Homo sapiens: one gene and its partner. The protein of the gene in region 1 purifies or fractionates together with the protein of each later gene. This does not show direct contact. Each region holds a gene or a part of one and is shown on either strand. Other genes may lie near its edges.

The links.
Region 2: the proteins of OR6A2 (region 1) and KIAA1549 purify together in Homo sapiens (affinity purification with mass spectrometry; one large-scale study listed by BioGRID and IntAct). This does not show direct contact.

What each region holds. Positions count from the first base shown.
Region 1 is NC_000011.10:6,791,236-6,793,962, reverse strand, and holds the end of OR6A2 (olfactory receptor 6A2), read left to right. Parts: 3' UTR 1-2,227; downstream 2,228-2,727. UniProt on the Homo sapiens protein: Odorant receptor.
Region 2 is NC_000007.14:138,831,390-138,834,889, reverse strand, and holds part of KIAA1549 (UPF0606 protein KIAA1549), read left to right. Parts: 3' UTR 1-3,500. UniProt on the Homo sapiens protein: May play a role in photoreceptor function.

The DNA of each region.
Region 1 (2,727 bases):
TCAGCCTTGCCAGAAAAAAATTTTGAAAATATGTATTACAAATCCTAAAAATATTGCAACCATTCTGATTCGGAAAGATTTGTGCAGATAGACACTTTTACTTATAAATACAGAAACAAGGAAAGGAAATAAGCAAAATATGCTCAACTTTCGCAAACAGGGCACTGGTCAAATAAATTGTAGCTCATATGTTACATGGAAAACTATGCAGAAATTGAAATAAAGTGATCTAAATAGAGTTAATGAAAGAAAAAATATTTCTAACTTAATAAAAATATTATGTTATATAACAGTATCAAAAATATCAGCCATATTTGCTTGTTTAAACAAGACTAGAAGGAATATGACTAAAATGCTGGCTAGATAATGCTGGACTGCTTACACCTGTAAATTGCATTCTGTGGCTAAGCATTGCCATCAATATATTTATTTAAATGCTTTTTTTCTTAGCCCATATTATATATAACTTTATTTATCTGGACAGGGAGATGGATACAGGGTATGTCAGTATGATTTTCAGAAATTTAGCTCCCTACTGTCACCCGACAACCAGAACTCTGAAGACAGTGAAGATTCTATCTCCAGATATGGATCCAACTGTTGCTCAAGATGTGGGATCTAACTTTATTGCTGTATGTTACTTAATAAAATTTACAAAAGGATATTACCAAGGATATCATGCATTATTTGCTAGCCCATACTTATTAAAAGTTTTAATATAATGTGCATATCTATTTGTGCCTAAACAGTATAAGTATCTTGTTGTAATAATTTTTTAAATGACTGGATATAAAGTTCATCAAAAATCTACTGTCGAAGTGTCCCCGTAGAAGAAGTTTCTGAAATGGGGTTGTGATCAGGGATGGGAGAGTCCTCCTCTAGGCATTGTTATTACAACTCTTTTATAAACTCTTTTATAAGTTAACTCGAGTTAATAGGAAGTAAAAGCATAATGTTGAATTTCTTCATTGTGCTTTTCTTTTATTTTCCAATGCTTTAAAACACCTCTAATTCTGATTTCAAGTATTGGAATAGGGTTTAGCACAGTATTCCTCACATACTCACCTTTCAATAAACCACGAATGAGTTTGAGTCCCATGTACTATGGTGAGATTGACACCTCTCCAGACGGGGACTGAATTTTTAGTGAACATATGACCCTCAGGACTCATATTGAAATTGAGGTCACAAAACTTTGTAAACTTTTTCATGTGAAGTATTGATTATCAGATTAAGTATCCCCCATCCTCCATTTATGTAACTGATTTTTCCCATAAACGTAGATGTAGAACTTTATTTTATCCTTGTTCCATTTGATCCTGTTTGTTTTCGACCATCTTTGTAATCTGCCGGTCTTTCAAAGTATTGCTTAGATAATATAAGTCTTTTATAATTCCCCTTTGCTAATACAGTATCTGGAGAAGCTTCTAGTCTCTTGCATCAGTACAAGAGGTGGGAGTACTGGATCTACCCGGGTTATTCAGAGTGGCCAGAGGCAACTAACAACTACAGGCAAGTGAGGATTAATATAAATGACTTCTGTGCTCCAGGTGTCTAGTGGTTTCCAATGTTGAGTAAACTCCAGATTTCTCAGTCTGCCTTTTAAGTTTCTTCACAGCACATTCTTAATTTTCCTTTTTGTCCTTATTTTAATTTTTTGTCCACTACAAACCTTGTACAGGTGAATTCTAGATTGTGATTAACAATTTTTATTTGAGACTAATAAGCCAGTGTATTTCACTGTTTGCTAAAACATCACATTGACCAGGATCAGGAAACAAAAATCCTTCTTGATAAACAGCATTTTAAAAATAACAATTGTTCTGCAGCTCTGTAAACCCTATTTCCCTTCATTAAAAAACCCTTACAGTTATGAACAAGTAAAGACTGAGAAATATCAGATCAAAGCTTGTCAAAGAGACAAGATACCTATATGGAGTACGGTATATTGGATTGGACCCTGGAACATAAAGTAATACTAACAGAAAAGATAATAAAATCTGAATAAAATGGCAAAATCTGAATAGTTTAACAGTGATGTATCAATTTTGGTTTCTTATTTTGACAAGTATGTATGCTAATGAAGGATGAATATATTAGAAGAAACAAACTGAGAGATGGGTGTGTGAAAAACTCTCTTTAGCATCTTTGCAATTTTTCTGTAAGCCTAATATTGTTCCAAAATTTAGAAGTTTATTTTAAAAAGAAACACGTTGTTAGTTTTTCCTTACCAAATATTTTAAGAGAAGTTTGATTTATTTTACTGGCTTTCATAAAATAAAGATATATTTTCCCTTCCTTTATAGTTACAATAATATGTACAGCTAACACTTGACTTTTTTGAATATTTACCTGAATTTTTTTATTATCATGATATTCATGAATTGATGCTGTTTTTATTTAGCTAATTGATAAGACAGAGATGAAGTGAAGTATAATTAACAAAATTGATAAAGTTAGTGCTTTATATACTTAGCAACTCTAAAAAATTATGCCAGCTCTTTTGAATATCACCATTTGGTGCCAGCAAGAATAAGTGGACATCTCCGTGTGCTTGGTAGAGAAGCGGGCCTATAGGGCAGGTGTATTCATTTTCTCTTAGAAGCATTCCTCAGATCAAGATTGCCTTGTGTGATTTTCATGTTTCATAGTCACACTTCATGAAAACCAATGGCCCCCGCCTTCCCAGAATTAGTGACAATACACAATATGCCTTTCAACAAAGAT
Region 2 (3,500 bases), on another chromosome or scaffold:
TCCCCCGCCACCTCCCAGGCACCGTAGTTGTGAGAATCAGATGTGATCATGTGTGCAGATGTCCTGTGAGGAGGGAGCATAAAGCACTGTGAAAATGTAGCATGCTGTCTATGTGGACGCCCTAGGATGAGTGATGTGAAACGCTGCACTACTGCGGTGAATGGGTTCACACATGGGTAATGAGCAAAACCGAAAGCTCGGTGTGACTCAGTTTCCTCACTCCCATTTTGCTTTAATTTCACTTCCTTCACCAATTTTCCGATTGCATTTATTAAGCATCTTTCTGCTCCCGACTTTCTGGTGTCTCTGGCACCAAATAACCCAGCAGACATGAGCCTTGCCTTCTGAGATTTTAGAATCTAAGATAGCACGAGTGGGTATAGAAGATGGAAGATACCGATAAATAACATGGTTTAAGTGTCAATAAAATTCATTCGAAGAGATCAGGCGCGGTGGCTCACGCCTGTAATCCCAGCATTTTGGGAGGCTGAGGCAGGTGGATCACTTGAGATCAAGAGCTTAAAACCAGCCCAGGCAACATGGCAAAACCCCGTCTCTACAAAAAAATACAAAAACTAGCTGGGTGTGGTGGCGCATGCCTGTAGTCCCAGCTGAGGCACGATAATTGCTTGAACCCGGGGGGTGGAGGTTGCAGTGAGCTGAGATTGCACCACTGTACTCCAACCTGGGCGACAGAGCAAGACTGTGTCTCAAAAAGAAAAAAATTTGTTCAAAAGACATAAATGAATTAGGCACCCAGAAGAAGTTGCATGTTTGGAAATGCAATATCTTGGGGAGACGTCAACTTCTGAAGTGACTTTGAAGGCAGGGCAGCTACCCAGGCAAATGGCGTGGAAGGAAGAGCTGAGAGTGGGCCTGGGAAAGGCTGTAGGGAAGGAGTGAAGCTGTCACTGAAATGAACTTGATCTTGATCTGCTTTGATATGGGGACAGAATCCCCGACTGCACTATTGAGGGAGTTTCAGAAGAGAAGGAAGAGGTGCTGGAAGGATGCTTTTGCAGTCATGCAGCAAGGAAACGACCAGGGCTGTGAAGATCTACAGAGGAAGTACTCCAGTGTGGGGGAGGCAAGGGAAGAGGACGAAAATGATGAGAATGACACTGAGGTCATTGTTTAGAGCAGATCTCAAGCAGCCGTTTGGCCACGCCATATCCTTTGTGGAGCATAGTGGGTTATCTATCTGTCTGTCTGTCTATGTATCTGTCTATCTATCTATATATATATTCAGCTTCTTTACTGCTACCTACACATTTTTCTCCAAATTTTATTAATTTCATAGTGTTTTGATTTGGGTGGCAGATGACTTTTAAGCAGTGGGTGTTTGCCGGCCAGATCTTTCCTGGCATGCGGACTGTGAGGCAAAGCACGGGTGAAGGTAGGCGCTAAAGGCTTTGGGCTAAAGCCAGCACGCGGTTCTGTGCTATAGGAGTCTCCCGTTTCCCGTGGACAGGTTCAGCGTTCCTTCTTTCGCACAACTTTTTTCTAAGTGTTCCAGTGACCAAGCCAGTCATTCGGACACTGATTTGCAGTGCATTGGCAGTAATTCACAAATTAGTTGTTATATAAGTCTCTCTCATCCCTTTCACACTAGATTCTCAGACATGAATGAATTTGTCGTTTGGAAGGAAAGCTGGGTAACGTTTTGGGCACAGGGGAAGGAGGACTCCGGTCTTAACTCCCACGCTAACTTTAGCTCAAGTGGAGTTTTCACCGTGGTCATTTCTACCTCCGGAGCAAGGTGCCAGCGCCAGTACTAGAGCCTGCTTATCCACATTTGCCCTGGACAGGAGCAGGAGGAAGTCCACTTCTGTACCGGCAGACAGAGCATGTGAACACAAAACACATTTCTATGGCATAGTCAACTGAACTTCATTTTTACATTTAATCTAACATGTTAACACGTTCTAACAGGGTTTCTATGAGCAGCTGCTGTAACATACTCATCAACTATGATAGACTTAACACTTGTTACCTAATGAACAAGGAGGATGTGCATTTCGGGTTTCTTTTGATATTCGTGGAGGTGATTGTCAGTGTTTAAACAGGACTACTTTCTCCACTATGAAGATGACTTGGAAATCGCAACATCATGGTACATTGCTAAGTCCATGCTTGTGTGTGTGACAGTAGGCTTGATAATTTATCTTAAAACACAGCAGCATTGAAATTTAGGAAAAGAATATTAAATGCCTTTGGAAACATGAAACAAAGTTAGGAGCCAGTAAGAAAGTGACAGAAGCAATGAATGTCTTAATGCAGTATAGTTAAAATGGCTTCCCACAGGGTAGATAATTATCCAGGATCCTTCCTTTTCCTTCTTCCTCCAGGTTTTTCAGGGGTCACTTCACATTTCTAAAGAAAGAGTGAATAGGCTGGGCATGGTGGCTCAAGCCTCTAATCTCAACGCTTTGGGAGGCTGAGGCAGGAGGATCGCTTGAGGCCAGGAGTTTGAGACCACCTTGGGCAACATAACGAGACCCCGTCTCTACAAAAAAAATTTAAAAATTAGCTGAGCATGGTGGCATGTGCCAGTAGTCCCAGCTACTCGAAAGGCTAAGACTGGAGGATCGCTTGAGCCAATGAGTTGGAGGCTGCAGTGAGCTATAATCACGCCACTGCACTCCAGCCTGGGCTGCAGGGTGAGGTCCTGTCTCTGGAAAAAAAAAAAAAAAAAAAAGGAATAGGTAAAAGGGACAGAGGTGAAATTTTGAGTGACTTGAGTCTCTTGCAGTCCCTGATTACACAGAACCTTTCTGGGCTACTTGGAGCATCACGAATAGTCTTTCCTGTACTTACCAGATTTCAAGTATTCATAACTTGACTCCCTAAGTGTACAAGTTGGGAATAGTACAGGGCCAAGTTCAAGTCGCATATGCTGTACTGTTCCTCCTGCAAATGTGGGGAAAGAAGAGGGAGATACTAGAGGAACTGAGGCTCCACCCATTCATTCAGTTGCTCTAAGCACCAGAGGACTTGTTTCAGAAAAGGGGAGTGGGAACGCCCTCGACTTTGCCCTCCTCCGGAGCATCTCTGGGACGCAGGGAGTCTGGCTAGCGTTAATAGGAAAGGTTGCTCGGCAGAGCTGCCCTGGAGTACTGACTTGTCTCTCCCTCCTTTGTCAAGGTCCATGTTTTTCTGGCTCTTCCTGCACACTCATCCCTAGATTATGAGCGTTAATGTACGAAATGTGCAGAGCAAATTGAGGCCAACTGTGGCATCAATACTGCAACTTAAACTTGACAATCATGGTTTGCTGGTCCTCAAACAGGCACTGAAATCTCAGTATGGGTATACGATTTAATAATCGGCCCCTCCCTTCTATTTGTCGGTTTTATGTTTCTATCCTTCAATAGCTGCACTGTTTTCTAATGTGCTGTAGAGTTTTTGAAATAATTTATGCAAGTATTTGGTTTCCATGTTTACAATTTATACAGCTTTCCTAGCATTTTAAATGGAAATGTCAATAAATGCTATGAATT